Linked DNA regions of Homo sapiens: region 1 is linked to region 2. Evidence: fine-mapped expression QTL. A gene starts in region 2. The other region holds a variant in brackets. All regions are shown on one strand. Distances are from middle to middle.

Region 1 (8,324 bases), 31 kb after region 2:
GCTGGTTTATGTGTTTCAAAAGCTAAAGCCCTTAAGGGAAGGGAATGCTTCAGCAGAGACAGTATCTTGGCCAAGAATGGAAGGAAGGTCTGCCACCTGCTTCTTGGCAGGGTCCCCAGAGAAGAATGGCTCATGAGCCTGCCAGGCCGGCAGGACCATAAGCAGCTTGCAAAATATTCCTCTGTTTCCCAGGTTCAGAGCAGACACAGTGCAGCCTGCGGAACTGGAGGGGCTGTTGACACAGGATGATGGATGTCTTGTCATTGCTGCTAGAGGGCTGGATGCTGTACAACTCCCTGCAGGCTCCCTCCTCTCTAAGCAAATCTGGCCCTGTTGAGTATGCAGGAATTGTGGCCCAGTCTCAGGAGGACTGAGGTTAAACTTGTTTCCAGGCCGGCTGTGATGGTCACGTCTGTAATCCCAGCACTTTGGGAGGCTGAGGCAGGTGGATCACTTGAGGTCAGGAGTTCGAGACCAGCTTGCCCAACATGGTGAAACCCCGTCTCTACTAAAAATACAAAAATTAGCCAGCGTGGTGGCACCCACCTGTAATCCCAGCTACTTGGGAGGCTAAGGTAGGAGAATTGCTTGTATCTGAGACGTGGAGGTTGCAGTGAGCCGAGATTGAGTCACTGCACTCCAGCCTGGGTGACAGAGCGAGACTCCATCTCAAAAAAAAAAAAAAACTTGTTTCCAGCTGCTTCTGCAGAATAGAGCATCGAGGATGGACACTAAGGTGAATTACAGAAAATAATGTCATTGCACATTTAAGTTTGTTACTGACATTCGGTAACTGCTAGAATGCCATACATATTGGTCCACAACCAACTGACTTTCCTTTTCTTTTTCTTTTCTTTTCTTTTTTTTTTTTTTTGAGACAGAGTCTGGCTCTGTTGCCCAGGCTGGAGTGCAGTGGCAGGATCTCGGCTCACTGCAACCTCTGCCTCCTGGACTCAAGAGATCCTCCCACCTCAGCCTCCCAAGTAGCTGGACTACAGGTGCATGCCACCACACCTGGCTAATTTTGTTTGTTTGTTTGTTTGAGACCCCAGAACACAGAGCCCAGAAAAACAGGAAAATGTACAAAAAAACAAAATAGATTAAAATAGAAGCATATTTTATGTTGTTAAAAGATCATGCTGATGACCAGGGAGGGAAATGTCTGGAGGGGCCAAGATGGACAAGTCCAGGAGGAGGCAACACAGGAGTCTTGCTCTATCACCCAGGCTGGAGTGCAGTGGCACGATCTCAGCTGACTACAGCCTCCGCCTCCCGAATTCAAGCAATTCTCCTGCCTCCACCTCCCAAGTAGCTGGGATTACAGGTGTGTGCCACCACGCCCAGCCTAATTTTTGTATTTTTCTGTAGAGACGGGGTTTCACCACATAACCCGGTTGGTCTCAAACTTCTGAGCTCAAGTGATTCTCCTGCCTCAGCCTCCCAAAGTGTTTACAGGTGTGAGCCACCGAACCCAGCCTCTTTTTTTTCTTTTTCTTTTTCTTTTTTTTTTTTTTTTTTTTAAAGAGACAGGGTCTTGCATTGTCATATCCAGGCTGGAGTGTGAAGTGCATTAAAACAATCATAGCTCATTATAGCCTCCAACTTCCTGGCTCAAGTGATTCTCCTGCCTTAGCCTCCTAAGTAGCTGGGACTACGGGTGTATACCACCACACTGGCTAATTTTACGTATTTATTTATTTTAGTTTTAGAGATGGGGGTCTCACTATTTTGCCCAGTCTGGCCTTGAACTCCTGGGCTCAAACAATCTTCCCTCCTCAGCCTCTGGACTAGATGGGACTACAGGTGCACACCACCGTGATTTACATTTTTATTTATTTTCATTTTTATTTTTGAGATGGAGTTTTGCTCTTGTCACCTAGGCTGGAGTGCAATAGTGCAATTTCGGCTCACTGCAACCTCCACCTCCTAGGTTCAAGTGATTCTCCTGCCTCAGCCTCCTGAGTAGCTGGGACTACAAGTGTGAGCCACCATGCCTGGCTAATTTTTTGTATTTTTAGTAGAGATGGGGTTTCACCATGTTGGCCAGGCTGATCTCAAACTCCTGACCTCAAGTGATCTGCCCACCTTGGCCTCCCAAAGTGCTGGGATTACAGGCGTGAGCCACCGTGCCCAGCCGATTTACTTCTTTTGTTTTTTTTGAGATGGAGCCTCGCTCTGTCTCCCAGGCTGGAGTGCACTGGCGCCATCTCAGCTCACTGCAACCTCCACCTCCCGGGTTCAAGCAGTTCTCTGCCTCAGTCTCCCAAGTAGCTGGGATTATAGGCTCCCGGCTAATTTTTGTATTTTTAGTAGAGATGAGGTTTCACCATCTTGGCCAGGCTGGTCTTGAACTCCTGATCTCATGTGATCTGTATGCCTCAGCCTCCCAAAGTACTGGGATTACAGGCATGAGCCACCATGCCCCGCCCGGTTTACATTTTTGTTTTTTTTTGAGGCGGAGTCTTGCTCTGTCGCCCAGGCTGGAGTGCAGTGGCACCATCTCAGCTCACTGCAAGCTCCGCCTCCCAGGTTCCCACCATTCTCCTGCCTCAGCCTCCCGAGTAGCTGGGACTACAGGTGCCCACCACCACACCCGCCTAATTTTTTGTAGTTTTAGTAGAGACGGGGTTTCACTGTGTTAGCCAGGATGGCCTCAATCTCCTGACCTCGTGATCCACCCTCCTCGGCCTCCCAAAGTGCTGGGATTACAGGCGTGACCCACCGCACCCAGCCCCGATTTACACTTTCAAAGGACTATTTGGCTGTGTAGAAGAAGGTGTGAGGCAGATTAGAGGGGAAGCAGAGGAGAAGCGGCAAAATGAGGAAGCTATTGCAGACATTCAACTGAGGCATGATGGTCACATGACTGGAAGGTGGCTGTGGAAGTAGGGAAAGAAAGATAGATTTGGGATGTATTTTGGAGTTCGAATCAACAGGATTTGATGAGGAATGGGATGGGGAGGGGGAAAGATGGTGGTGAGGGAGAGGAAGACACCAAGGACAGCTCCCAGGTTTCTGGATTGAACATGTGGGTGGCGAGTAGTTGTGCTATTTACTGAGATGGGGAAGGTGGTTTTGTTTGTTTGTTTTTTTCCACTCTATAGGGTGCAAGTAAGGAGACTCTAGAATGTCCACTTGGGACATTCTAGCAGTTACCGAATGTCAATAAAAACTTAGATGTGCAATGACATTATTTTCTGTAATTCATCTTAGCTTTCACCCCAGTGCTGTAGGGGGCCTGCCCCTCCACACCTGTGGGTATTTCTCGTCAGGTGGGACGAGAGACTGAGAAAATAAATAAGACAGAGACAAAGTAGAGAGAAAGAACAGTGGGCCCAGGGGATCAGCGCTCAGCATACGGAGGACCCGCACCGGCACTGGTCTCTGAGTTCCCTCAGTATTTATTGATTAGTATTTTCACTATCTCGGCAAGGGGAATGCAGCAGGAGAACAGGGTGATAGTGGGGAGAAGGTCAGCAGGAAAACGTGAGCAAAGGAATCTATGTCACAAATAAGTTCAAGGGAAGGTACTGTGCCTGGATGTGTACATAGGCTAGATTTATGCTTCTCTCCACCCAAACAGCTCAGTGTAGTAAAAAATTACAGCGCAGCATTGCCGCCAGCATATCTTGCCTCCAGCCACAGGGCGGTTTTCTTCTATCTCAGAATAGAACAAATGTACGATCGGGTTTTACACTGAGACATTCTGTTTCCAGGGACAAGCAAGAGACAGAGGCCTTCCTCTTATCTCAACCGCAAGAGGCCTTCCTCTTTTACTAATCCTCCTCAGCACAGACCCTTTTTTGGGTGTTGGGCTGGGGGACGGTCAGTTCTTTCCCTTCCCACGAGGCCACATCTCAGGCTGTCTCAGTGGAGGGAAACTTTGGACAATGCCCAGGCTTTCTTAGGCAGAGGTCCCTGCGGCTTTCCGCAGTGCATTGTGCCCTTGGTTAATCGAGACTGGAGAATGGCGATGACTTTTACCAAGCATACTACCTGTAAACATATTGTTAACAAGGCACAGCCTGCACAGCCCTAGATCCCTTAAACCTTGATGCCATACAGCACATGTTTCTGTGAGCACAGGGTCGGGGCTAAAGTTTACGGATTAACAGCATCTCAAGGCAAAACAATTTTCTTAGTACAGATCAAAATGGAGTTTCTTATGTCTTCCTTTTCTACATAGACACAGTAACAGTCGGATCTCTCTCTTTTCCCTATACAATGCTCTATATGTTTGAGATGCCCCTGAGATATTAGAACAGTTAACACTTATGGAATGCTTAACAAATGCCAAGCACTGTTCTTGTTACCAAAACAGCAGGGGTTCAGGCGAGGTCCTGCTGCTTGCCGCACAGAAAGCCAATCACTGAGACGATTATTGCCAAGGAAGAAGGCTTTAATTGGGTGCTGTGGCTGAGATGGGAGATTGGTCTCAAATCCATCTCCCTGATCGACTGAAGTTAGGGTCTTATATAGCAGGGAACAAATGTAACCATGTATGGGAAAACAAGAACTTGGGGGAAGGGTAAGGAAGCAATCATGATGAATGAGGGGCCTGGCATTTCATTGTCTAGATGCCATGATCTGGTGAGTTTCAGTTCTTTCATACTTTTTGAGAGGGCTGATGGTCATTTCCTAAAGAAGAAATTCAGA[T/C]CAAGTAAATGTAAGTTTCAAGCTTTAAGACCAAAAGGGTTGACCCGCACCATGGCTCATGCCTGTAATCCCAGCACTTCGGGAGGCTGAGGCCAGTGGATCGCTTGAGGTCAGGAGTTTAAGACCAGCCTGGCCAACATGGTGAAACCCCATCTCTTCTAAAAATACAAAAAATTAGCTGGGCATGGTGGCGCACGCCTGTAATCCCTGCTACTCAGGAGGCTGAGGCAGGAGAATCACTTGAACCCAGGAGGTGGAGGTTGCAGTGAAGCGAGATCATGCCACTGCACTGCAGCCTGGGCCAAAAGAGTGAAACTCCATCTCAAACAAACAAACAAACAAACAAACAAGAAAACAAAGTACTAGGATTATAGGCATGAGCCAACACTGTGTCCGGCTTATCTAAGATTTTCATAGCTAGAGAGAAGTTAATGCCTGGCTTTGAAGCTTCAAAGGACAGGCTGACTCTTGTTCGGGGTAATGCAGCTGGTGACTTGAAGTTAAAACCAATGCTCCTTTGCCATTCTGAAAATCCCAGGGCCCTTAAGAATTACATTAAATCGGCCAGGTGCGGTGGCTCACACCTGTAATCCCAGCACTTTGGGAGGCTGAGGTGGGCAGATCACCTGAGGTCAGGAGTTCGAGACCAGCCTGACCAATATGATGAAACCCTGTCTCTACTAAAAATACAAAAATTAGCCAGGTGTGGTGGCATATGCCTGTAATCCCAGCTACTTGGGAGGCTGGGACAGGAGAATCGCTTGAACCCAGGAGGCAGTGCCGTGAGCCGAGATTGCGCCACTGCACTCCAGCCTGGGCAACAAGAACGAAACTCTATCTCAAAAAAAAAAAAAAAAAAAAAAAAAGAATTACATTAAATCGACTCTGCCTGTGCTCTAGAAATGGAACAACAAAGCTTAGGTGACTGCACATCTGTTTACAAGATGGTTTGCTGAATATTTGAAGCCCACTGTTGACACCTCCTGCTCAGAAAAAAGAAAAGATTCTGTTCAAAATAGTATTGCTTATTGACAATGCACCTGGTCACCCAAGAGCTCTGCTGAAGATGTACAAAGAGATTAATGTTGTTTTCATGGCTGCAAATAAAACATCCATTCTGCTGTTCATGGATCAAGGAGCAATTTAGACTTTTAAGTCTTATTATTTAAGAAATACATTTTGTGAGGCTGTAGCTGCCATAGATAGTGATTCCTCTGATGGATCTGGGCAAGGTAAATTGAAAACCTCCTGGAAAGAATTCGCCATTCTGGAAGCCATTAAGAACATTCAGGGTTCATGGGAGGAGGTGACAATATCCACATTAGCAGGAGTTTAGAAGAAGTGAATTCCACCCTCATGGATAAGTTTGAGGGATTCAAGACTTCAGTGGAGGAAGGAATTGCAGATGTGGTGGAAATAACAAAAGAACTAGGATTAGAAGCCAAGCGTGAAGATGGGACTGAATTGCTACAATCTCATGATCAAACTTGAAAAGATGATGAGTTGCTTCTTTGTTACGTCTTGGTGTTTTTTGAGACAGAGTCTCGCTCTGTTGCCCAGGCTGGAGTGCAGTGGTGTGATCTTGACTCACTGTAACCTCCGCCTCGTGGGTTCAAGAGATCCTCATGCCTCAGCCTCCTGAGTAGCTGGGATCACAGCTGTGCACCACCACACCCTGCTACTTTTTGTATTTTTTTTTTTTTTTTTAGAGAGGGGCTTCGCCTTATTGGCTAGCCTGGTCTTGAACTCCTGGTCTCAAGTGATCTGCCTGCCTTGGCCTCCCAAAGTGTTGGGATTACAGGCATGAGCCACTGTGCCTGGCAAGGGGTTGCTTCTTATGATGAGCAAAGAAAGCGGTTTCTTTTTTTTTTTTTTTGGAGACGGAGTCTTGCTCTGTCACCCAGGCTGGAGTGCAATGGTGCCGTCTGGGCTCACTGCAATCTCTGTCTCCTGGGTTCAAGCGATTCTCCTGCCTCAGCCTCCCAAGTAGCTGGGACTACAGGCACGTGCCAGCATGCCCAGCTAATTTTTGTATTTTTAGTAGAGACAGGGTTTCACCATGTTGGCCAGGCTGGTCTCAAACTCCTGACCTCAAGTGATCCACCTGCCTCAGCCTCCCAAATTGCTGGCATTACAGGCGTGAGCCACCGCGCCCAGCCAGAAAGTGGTTTCTTGAGATGGAAACTACTCCTGGTGAAGATTGTGTGAACACTGTTGAAATGACAACAAAGGATTTATAATATCCTATAAACTTGGTTGATCAGCCATCTAAGTTTTATAGTTTTAGATCTTATATTTAGGTCTTTGATCCATTTTGAGTAAATTTTTTTATATGGTGTTAAGGAACCAACTTCATTTTTTTGCATGCAAATATCCAGTTTTCCCAGCATTATCTGTGAAAAGATTGCCCATTCCTCACTGAGTGGTTTTGGTATCCTTATTGAAAATTATTTGACTTCATATATGAGTGTTTATTTCTGAGCTTTTTATTCTATTCCATTGGTCTATATGTCTGTCTTCATGCCAGTACCACTGTTTTGATTACTGTAGCTTTGTAGTAAGTTTTGAAAGCAGAAAGTATGAGTCCTCCAACTTTGTTCTTTTTTTTTCTGAGACAGAGTCTCACTCTGTCACCCAGGTTGGAGTGCAGTGGTGCAATCTCAGCTCACTGCAACCGCCACCTCCCAAGTTCAAACAATTCTTGTTCCTCAGCCTTCTGAGTAGCTGGGATTACAGGCTCGCACCACCATGCCTGGCTAATTTTTGTATTTTTAGTAGAGACGGTGTTTCACCATGTTGGCCAGGCTGGTCTTGAGCTCCTGACCTCAGGTGATCCGCCTGCCTCGACCTCCCAAAGTGCCGGGATTACAGGCATGAGCCACCGCGCCTGGCCTCTTACTGTTTCTGGATATGAATTTCCTGCTTCAATCAGGTCAGCCTCTGCTCACTCTTGTGCATATCATTTTTCTGCCTTGTGCATATCATTTTTCTCCTTGCTGTTGCCCATCAGTGAATCCTGCTTGGGAAGGCTTCCCCTCTTAGCTCTGCCCATCTCAAACTTACTTATTTAAGACTCAGAAGCATACTTATAGGTTGGGCATGGTGGCTCACGCTTGTAATTCCAGCATTTTGGGAGGGTGAGGTGGGCGGATCACTTGAGCCCAGGAGTTCCAGACCAGCCTGGGCAATATGACAAAACCCTGTCTCTATTTAAAAAAAGAAATTTAGGCCGGGCGCAGTGGTTCATGCCTATAATCCGAGCACTTTGGGAGGCCGAGGTGGGCGGATCACAAGGTCAGGAGATCGAGACCATCCTGGCTAACATGGTGAAACCCCGTCTCTGCTAAAAATACAACAACAACAAAAAATTAGCCGGGTGTGGTGGCAGGCACCTGTAGTCCCAGATACTTGGGAGGCTGAGGCAGGAGGATAGCATGAACCCGGGAGGCAGAGCTTGCAGTGAGCTGAGATGGCGCCACTGCACTCCAGCCTGGGCAACCAAGCGAGACTCCATCTCAAAAAAAAAAAAAAAAAAAAAAAAAAAAGAAATGTAATTAAAAAACAACAACAACAACAACCAGCCCTGCAGCACTATTCACAATAGCAAAGGCATGGAATCAACCTAAATGCCCATCAGTGATAGACTGGATAAAGAAAATGTGGTACAT
Region 2 (8,324 bases):
TTAGCCGGGCATGGTGATGCACACCTGTAGTCTCAGCTACTCAGGAGGCTGAGGAAGGAGAATCACTTGAACCCAGGAGGTGGAGGCTGCAGTGAGCTGAGATGGCACCATTGCACTCCAGCCTGGAGACAGTGCGAGACTCCGTCTAAAAAAACAAAAAAAAAACCAACAAAAAACACCACCTCCAACCAGGAAGGCTGGGAGGGAGTGCTCCTTACCTCCCTAGCATGGAGACTGCTAGGAAGAACAGACCCTGCTGGAACCACGGGGAGCTGGATGCCCTGAGCTTCCCCTGGCAGAGGTGGGGCAGCCCTGGTGGTCTCTCCTAGCAGAGACTCCAGGATTCCAGGACACCTTCCTGGATGTAATAGTCTGACTCCTCCAAGAGGCGCAGAGGCCAGGCAGCCTCCAGGCGTGTCCCAGGGGAAGCCACCAGGCTGGCAAGGTTGATTCATCACTGCTGAGCACAGTGGCTGTTGTCTGCCTCGAGGGCTATTTTTTTCCCTTCTTCTTTTAAATGACTAATCAAAGTCAATATCACTAGTGCAGAGAGGCCCGGAGCTGAGTCAGGGGTGTGCGAGAGGCCAAGCTGGGTCTCCAGGAAAGACGGCTGTGCAATCTGAGCCTCCTCACCCTGTCTCCAGCCTCCAGCTGTGTGTACACCAGGTCCCCGCCCTGCAGAGCCTGCCCCTTCACAGGGCCCCAGAGTGGCTCAGGGAGGCAGCTTCAGGCCGTGGAAGGGGCCAGGCTCTGCCCCCACAGGCTGCATGACCTCAGATAAACACCTGGCCCTTTCTGGACCTGTTTTCTGATCTGTAAGATAGGAGGTTGAACTAGATGGTCCCGGGAGGCCGTTCCACCTGCACCCCAGATGAAAATGTACCCAAATGCATCGTTCATGCTGGGAAACCTCTGGAACGTAATGGGAGGAAGGATCGGGCGAGCCCTGTCCGGCTCCTGTTCTTACACTCTCGTGCCTGCCACTCTGCAAAGTAGGTAACACTGGCTCCATTCTGCAGATGAGGAAATGAGCAGAGGGAGATTAAGGATGAACCTGCCCGGTGTTGCCACCCAACCGCCAGACTCTTCCCAGCAACGAAAGAGAAGGGGAAACTGATGGGCAAAGCAGGGCCCTGGGCCTTCCCATCCAGGCCTGCCTGGGCTGCTCCAGTGAGTTGGGCCCTAGTCTAGACCTCAAGGCACTTCAGGGGGCCCCAGACACCAGCTGTCAGGACCACCTGCTATTCTCTCCTGGTTGAGCATTCCAATCTCTCTGCCTTCACTAAGCTGTCCCCTCCTTTGGATCACCTTCTCTCCTCCTATTCAAATCCAGCTCCTGCTCCTGTGCTATCCCAGGGTCTCTTCTTCCAGGAAGCCTTCCAGGATTGTGCTGCTCCAACTCTCCCTCCTTGCTACGTCTTCAGCCTCCTGCAACAGGTCCCATGTGTCTGTCCCACATGACCTGGCACATAGACAAATACATGTTCTGGGCCCAGGGAGAAAGGTCAGCTCTGCAAAGTCCCCAGGAAGAAAATCAGGGAGTCTCTGAGTTGAGGGGAGGAGGCAGCTACAGCCTGAGTGGGGCTCCTGGGGATGCTCTAACCTAAAAGTCTTTCCCTGGCTGTGTGACCCTGGCCCTGTCTTCGGTCTCTCTTTGTTACCTGTAACCTGCAAGTGGCCTTTCTGATCTCTGAGGGACTGCGACAGCATTGAGGCCCCCTGGCTAGTCCCCAGTGACCCCCTTCACTCCCCATCTGCAGAGGGAGAGTTGGGAGCTGGAGAAGGCTGGAGAAGGCTGGAGGGCTGGGCCGGGCCTGCAGAGTGAGGAAACGCGCCAGCTCCTTCCCCAAGTGTGACTTTTATAAATAAGCTCTCTTCGCCTCCTTCCAAATGTGGTGGTGTTGGGTGGGGGAGAAGGAGAAAGAAGAGGGAGGAGGAGGAGGAAGAGGGAGGGAGGGAGGGCTGGGAGCGGTGCACAGCCGCTGTCCCCAGCACCATCTCTGTTCAGCCCAGCCCAGCCCAGCCCGCCCCAGTCCAGCCCAGTCCAGCCCAGTCCAGCTCAGCCAGTGCTGGCCTCTTCCTTTCTGGGGATTCTGGGCTGAAAATTCTGACTCCTGGGGCTTCAGGCCTCCTACAAATGTGGAGCTGGAGTCAGGAGACCTGTAGCCCTGCTTCTCGTCCCGAGAAACTGAATTCTAGGCTTTCCCATCCCCACTTCACAGATGGGAACCCTAGGTCCAGAGGGAAAGCAGCCTGTGGGAACAGTGGCCCCACCAAGACTGACTGTCTCACCCCACCCCGGGTGGGCTCCTGCCTGCCAGCCGTCCACCTGTCTGCTAGAAAGCCCTCCCTGGGCAGGGCCACCCAGCAATGGGTACAGCCTCCCTGGGCTCTGAATGCCTTGTGTGGGGAGGGTGGGGGTGTCTGGAGCGGAAGCCTCAGACCATTCAAAGCAAAGCCTGGCTTCACCATCTAATCAGGGGGCGAGGAGGTAGTAACAGAGACAGACATCAGAGCAAAAAGATCTGGGTTCAAACGCTTCACAACCCCAGCTCCACTGGCTGTCCCCCAGTGTCAGCCAGGCCTGAGTCTGACTATCTTCAGGGATGAGGCAAAGCCCTTTTCTACCACCCCTCCCTCTAGCAGGCAAGCCGTGTTTCTTTTGTGCCTCAGTTTCCCCTTCAGCTAGGGGGATGAAGGCTGACATGCCAGAGGCTATTATCCTATGTAGGGGCCCATGGTTCCCCTGACCACTTGGTTCCCACACACACCCTCAGGTAACCTACCAGGCGCCTAAACATCAGCACATTACACCACACAGCCATCCGTCACCAGGAAAACACTCATTCTGACTCAACGGAGCTCAGGAAACTTGAGGGCAACCACAGGGGCCGCGGGGGAAGTGTTTAGAGCCCATATGCGACTTGAGGGACCATCTTCTTCCTTTGAAACCTCATGGGGTTTACACCAGGGGCTGGGCGCTCGGCCAGGAATAACAGGTCTGGAGGCAAAGTGGAGGCCGTGGTGCCAGAGCAAGTGGGGGACATGAAGGCAGGGGAGCCCAGGTCCCGGCTCCAGGATGCCCAGGAGGCAACCATGACATAATGGGGCAGACAGGCTCCAACTCAGGGAGCCTCTGGGTGGAGAAGACAAGCCGTGGGGTCAAATGCCCAAAGGACACTTGACATTTTCCATAGGAGGGGACCTTAGGGTTCTAGTTCCTAGCCCAGGGAGCGGGGTGGGGGGTGCTCCCAGGGATCAGCAGGCAGGGCTGCCAGCCAGGTGGCCAGCCAGGGGACCAGATGACCAGATGAGACTCAATCTAGTCTTGAGCCTTGATCCACCCCCCCTCCCCGACACACCCAGAGAGGCTTCATTTCCGTCGCTGTCCTCCACTCCCGGTCACCATCCTCCTGGGCTCCTCATCCCTAAGGGCAGAGGCCAGGGGAAGGGGACCCACGCAGGCTGCAGGGGTCTCTGGGCTGGGAGAAGGTGGGCTCTGACTCAGAACGTTTGTGCATCCTCCTACTCCCCCCAAACCCCGCCCCAGGAGCCACACCCCAGGGGTTTCCCAGATACAGGTAGAAAAATAGATCCAAGTCGCAAGGAACCCTGAAGGGTCTGGAAACGCCAGCCAGTGCTGCCCGAAAGCCCGAAGGTGGATAGGTGGACCGGGGGCGGGTGTGACGCCCCCCCCCCCATACCTGGGGCGGGCAGTGGATCCCTACTGCGACCAAGCAGAGGGGGAGCCACAGGTGATGGGAGCCACAGGTGACCAGGGTGGCCCGAGGAGGCCGCCACCACCCGACGATCAGGTTTCCGCAGCGCGCCCCGCAGCGGGGCCCCGCGCAGGGGACCGGCACCGGCCCACCGCGGTCCCCTCGTCTGTCTACACCAAGGAGGTTCCCACCGCGGTCCCCTCGTCTGTCTACACCGAGGGGGCACGGGAGGTCAGAGATGAGGGGCAGTGAGGGGGCCAGAGAAAGGGCCTGCTCTGCGGGAGGGGGAAGAGGTCCCGCCACCAAAACCCCATCATACCCTCCGAACCCCCCAAATCAAGAGGGCCCCGAAAAGTTTATCCAGGACCCCGGACTCCAGCCGACCGTCCACGTGTCAGCGCGGCCGAGCTCACGCGAGCCTGACCCCGAGTGGGTCCGAGGGGCGGAACCCGGAGGGGGGTCGAGGTCCCTGGCTCGCCCCGCTCCCTTCAGCCCTGGCTGGGGGCGCAGGAGCGGCCACCATCCTGGCCGCGGGAGCCGGGCGGGAAGTGTCCGGCGCGTTGGCGCTGGCGGCGGGCGGCGGGCGGCCGCGCGCTGGGGCCGGACTCACCGTGCGGAGCTCCTGGGTTCGGTCCTTCATGCTCCCGGGAGTGGCAGCGGCGCCGGCTGCAGCCGTGTGAGCCCCGCATGCGCGACGGCCGCCCCGCGGCTGCGCAGCGCCAGCCCGGCCCCGCCCCGGCCCCCGGGACCCCGGCCCCGCCCCACCCCGCCCGGGCCCCGCCCAGACCCCGCCCAGACCCCGCCCCACCCCGCACGAGCAGCCCCGTGGGGATCGAAGCCCTGGGGTCTCGTCCTGGACGTTCCGCACGCGTGATCGCTCCCGGGGATGGGTCCCCAGAGACCCTGCTGCCTCCTCTGCCCCAGCCCTGTCTCGTTTTTTATTTATTATTTTTGGAGACAGGGTCTCGCTCTGTCGCCCAGGCTGGAGTGCTGTGGTGCAATCATAGCTCACTGCAGCCTTGAGCTCCTGAGCTCAGGCAATCCTCCCGCCTCAGTCTCCTGGGTGGCTGGGACTAGAGTTGCTCGCCACTACTCCTGAATAATTTTCAAATATTTTGTAGAGACAGGGTCTTGCTATGTTACTCAGGCTGGTCTTGAACTCCTGTCCTCAAGCGATCCTCCCTCCTCCCAAAGCTCTGCGATTACAGGCGTGAGCCACCGTGCCTGGCTTCCAGCCTCTTCCCGACTTAGCAGCTCAGCATCCCTGTCCCAGAATCCGGTCCTCATCCTCAGATCCCTTCACTTCCCCAGAATTTGCTGAAGGTTGTAACTCCCTCCTTCATTTCATTACCTTGGGACCTCCTGCTCTCCCTTCTGTTCCCCAGCCAAAAACCTCCTGGAGAGTTCCAGTCTGGGAGCCTCCACCCTTCCCCCTTGCTCCCATCATCCAGTAGGGACTCAGGCACTGGCCTCTTCTTTCCCTAGGATTTCTCAGTTCACAGCTCTGATGCTGCGTGACCCACCCCTTTTTCCTGCAGGATGAAGGAACTCCTCTATCTTTTTATGTTTGTTTGTTTGTTTGATTATTTATTTATGAGATGGAGTTTCACTCTTGTCGCCCAGGCTGGAGTGCAGTGGCGCTATCTCAGCTCTGCCTCCTGGGTTCAAGCGAGTCTCCTGCCTCATCCTCCCAAGTAGCTGGGATTACAGGTGCCCACCACCACGCCCGGCTAATTTTTTGTATTTTTTAGTAGAGACAGGGTTTCACCATGTTGAGCAGGCTGGTCTCAAACTCTTGACCTCTTGATTCTCCCGCCTCGGCCTCCCAAAGTGCTGGGCTTATAGGCGTGAGCCACCGTGCCCGGCCTATTTTTTTTTTTTTTTTTTGAGACGGAGTCTCACTCTGTTGCCCAGTCTGGAGTGCAGTAGCACGATCTTGGCTCACTGCAACCTCCACCTCCCGAGTTCAAGCAATTCTCCTGCCTCAGCCTCCCAAGTAGCTTGAGATTACAGGCACCCACAACCACGCCTGGCTAATTTTTTTGTATTTTTAGTAGAGAAGGGGTTTCACCATGTTGTCCAGGCTGGTTTCGAACTCCTGACCTCAAGTGATCTGCCTGCCTCAGCCTCCCAAAGTGCTGGGATTACAGGTGTGAGCCACTGCACCCAGCCAGGAACTACTCTATCTTTGGGAAAGAGATTTGAGTTATGGCCCCCCTCTCCTCCTTTCCCTGCATCCCCAATCCTGAACTCTGGCTCTAGGCCTGAGGTTCTATTTTCTCTTTTTTCGTTTTTGTAAAGACGGGGTCTCCTCATGTTGCCCAGGCTGGTCTCAAAGTCCTAGCCTCAAGCGATCCTCCTGGCTTGGGCTTCCAAAGCACTGGGATTACACTTGGCCAATGTAGGTTCTATTTTCTATCTAGAAGCCTGGGGCCTGGCTTCCTCTAGGACTCATGGGAAAACCTGTGGAGGAGTGGGAGTGGGGAGGCCAGTCAACAGCAGATGTTCTTTTGAAGGTCCCTGCCAGCATCTTGTTGCAACAGTGGTCTCGCACACACCCCCATAAGCCCGCTGTGCCCTCCACCACCCCCAGCTGTCACTTCTGTGGCCCACACCCTCTTGACCTGAAGCCAAGCACATCCCTTCCCTTCCCCAGGACTGCCAAAGCATTGGAGCTCTGGAGCCAATCCAGCCCCCTGCTGCCCAGTGTGTCTGGGCCTGGCACCTCTCCCAGACTATGGGCACAGGTTAGCTGGCTGCCAGGCAAGCTAGGGACACTGTTCCAGCTTTCCCTTCTTCCCTGGAAAATCTGGCCCAAGACGGTCCGATGTGGCCTGGCAGAGGGAACAGCCACACCCTGTTCCAGTTGTCCCGGCTTCAACTTTGGGTGCCCTGCAGAATGGGCATTGATGGCGCCCCACTTCACAGAGGAAAAGTAAGGAGGTAAGTGCTAGAGGAACTTGCCCAGAGATGACAAGTGACAGGGGAGTCTGCCTGACTCCTGGTCTAGCCTGCAGGGTGAGTCAGTGGGGTGGGTCACAGGTATGCCCCCAGAGCCCAGTGTCTGGCCCCTTAGGGAGAGGGCAGGAAAGGGAGGCTCAGCTCCTGCCCTCTGAGAGCCCTGGTGTCACACCAAGCATCACTCATTGAGACGCATATTAAATAGTAGCATGAAAAATGAATAAAGAAATAAATGTGGCCAGGCACAGTGGCTCATGCCTGTAATCCAGCACTTTGGGAGGCCCAGGAGGGAGGATTGCTTGAGGCCAGGAGTTTAAGACCAGCCTGGACTCCATCTCTTAAAAAAAAAAAAAAAGTGTGCCTTTCACTTCTTTTTTTTGTTTGTTTGTTTTTTTAAGGCTGAGTCTCTTTCTGTCACCCAGGCTGCAGTGCAGTGGTGCAATCCAGGCTCACTACAACCTCCACCTCCCATGTTCAAGTGATTTTCCTGCCTCAGCTTCTTGAGCAGCTGGGATTACAGGCACCCGCCACCACGCCCAGCTAATTTTTGTATTTGTAGTAGAGATGGGGCGTCACCATGTTGGCCAGGCTGGTCTTGAACTCCTGACCTCAAATGATCTACCCGCCTTGGCCTCCCAAAGTGCTGGGATTACAGGTGTGAGGCACTGCACCCGGGCTTGCCCTTCTCTTTAAACTCTGTTTTTCTGCTAAGTCTTTTCCTCATTTAATCATTCATTCATTCATCAAACATTAAATGGGAAACCATGCTCTGGGGCCACTGTTCTGCACTCAAGATGTTCCCACTGCAGTGGGGGAGACAGACATGGTTTTGGTAGGTGAGGGAACCAGGGTGGCTTCCCAGAGGTGGTGACATTCGAACAGGGTGTTGCAGTGGGATTGCAGCAGGGAGTGGACAAAGGAAGGATGCTGGGGCAGGGGTGGGGGTGGGGAGCTCTCTAAAATGGAGCACTCTACCGGGAGCACCTCAGGAGCCTGCTGTGGCACTTGGGTGGACATAGGTGGGGGATGAGCCCAAGGAAGGGGGAGGCCTTGGATGCTAAACTATTGTGCAGAAAAGGGAAGCCCATCGAGGGCCAGATTATCATTCCTTTATTTATTTAGAGACCGAGTTTCACTCTTGTCATCCAGGCTGGAGTAAAATGGCACAATCTTGGCTCACTGCAACTTCCGCCTCCCGGGTTCAAGCAATTCTCCTGCCTCAGCCTCCCAGATAGCTGAGATTACAGGCATGTGCCACCACACCTGGCTAATTTTTTGTATTTTTAGTAGAGATGGAGTTTCTCCACCTTGGCCAGGCTGGTCTCGAATTCCTAACCTCAGGTGATCCACCCACCTCGGCCTCCCAAATTTCTGGGATTGCAGGCATGAGCTACCATACCCAGGCTTCATTCCTTCATTTAAAAAGTATTGGCCGGGCATGGTGGCTTATGCCTGTAATCCCAGCACTTTGGGAGGCTGAGGTGGGCGGATCACGAGGTCAGGAGATCGAGACCATCCTGGCTAACATGGTGAAACCCTGTCTCTACCAAAAATACAAAAAAAAAAAAAAAAAAAAAATTAGCCGGGCATGGTGGTGGGCGCCTGTAGTCCCAGATACTTGGGAGGCGGAGGCAGGAGAATGGC

What was found. PIP is the estimated chance that this variant, and not a neighbour inherited with it, causes the effect.
Region 1: its variant is the best candidate, but not a certain one, in a credible set for the expression of STX1A in cerebellar hemisphere (GTEx, PIP 0.69).

The regions. Positions count from the first base shown.
Region 1 is chr7:73,746,464-73,754,787 of GRCh38, forward strand. No RefSeq gene overlaps it. Among named protein-coding and RNA genes, the nearest start is that of ABHD11, 12 kb to the left of the region's middle. The variant T/C (reference allele first, on the strand shown) is at 4,657.
Region 2 is chr7:73,715,273-73,723,596 of GRCh38, forward strand. It overlaps STX1A (syntaxin 1A), which reads right to left and starts at 4,397. Exons shown (of 10, transcript NM_004603.4): 1 at 4,330-4,397. The coding sequence starts at 4,359. RefSeq lists an enhancer at 175-706 and silencers at 3,793-3,872, 3,983-4,042, 4,053-4,252, 4,313-4,512.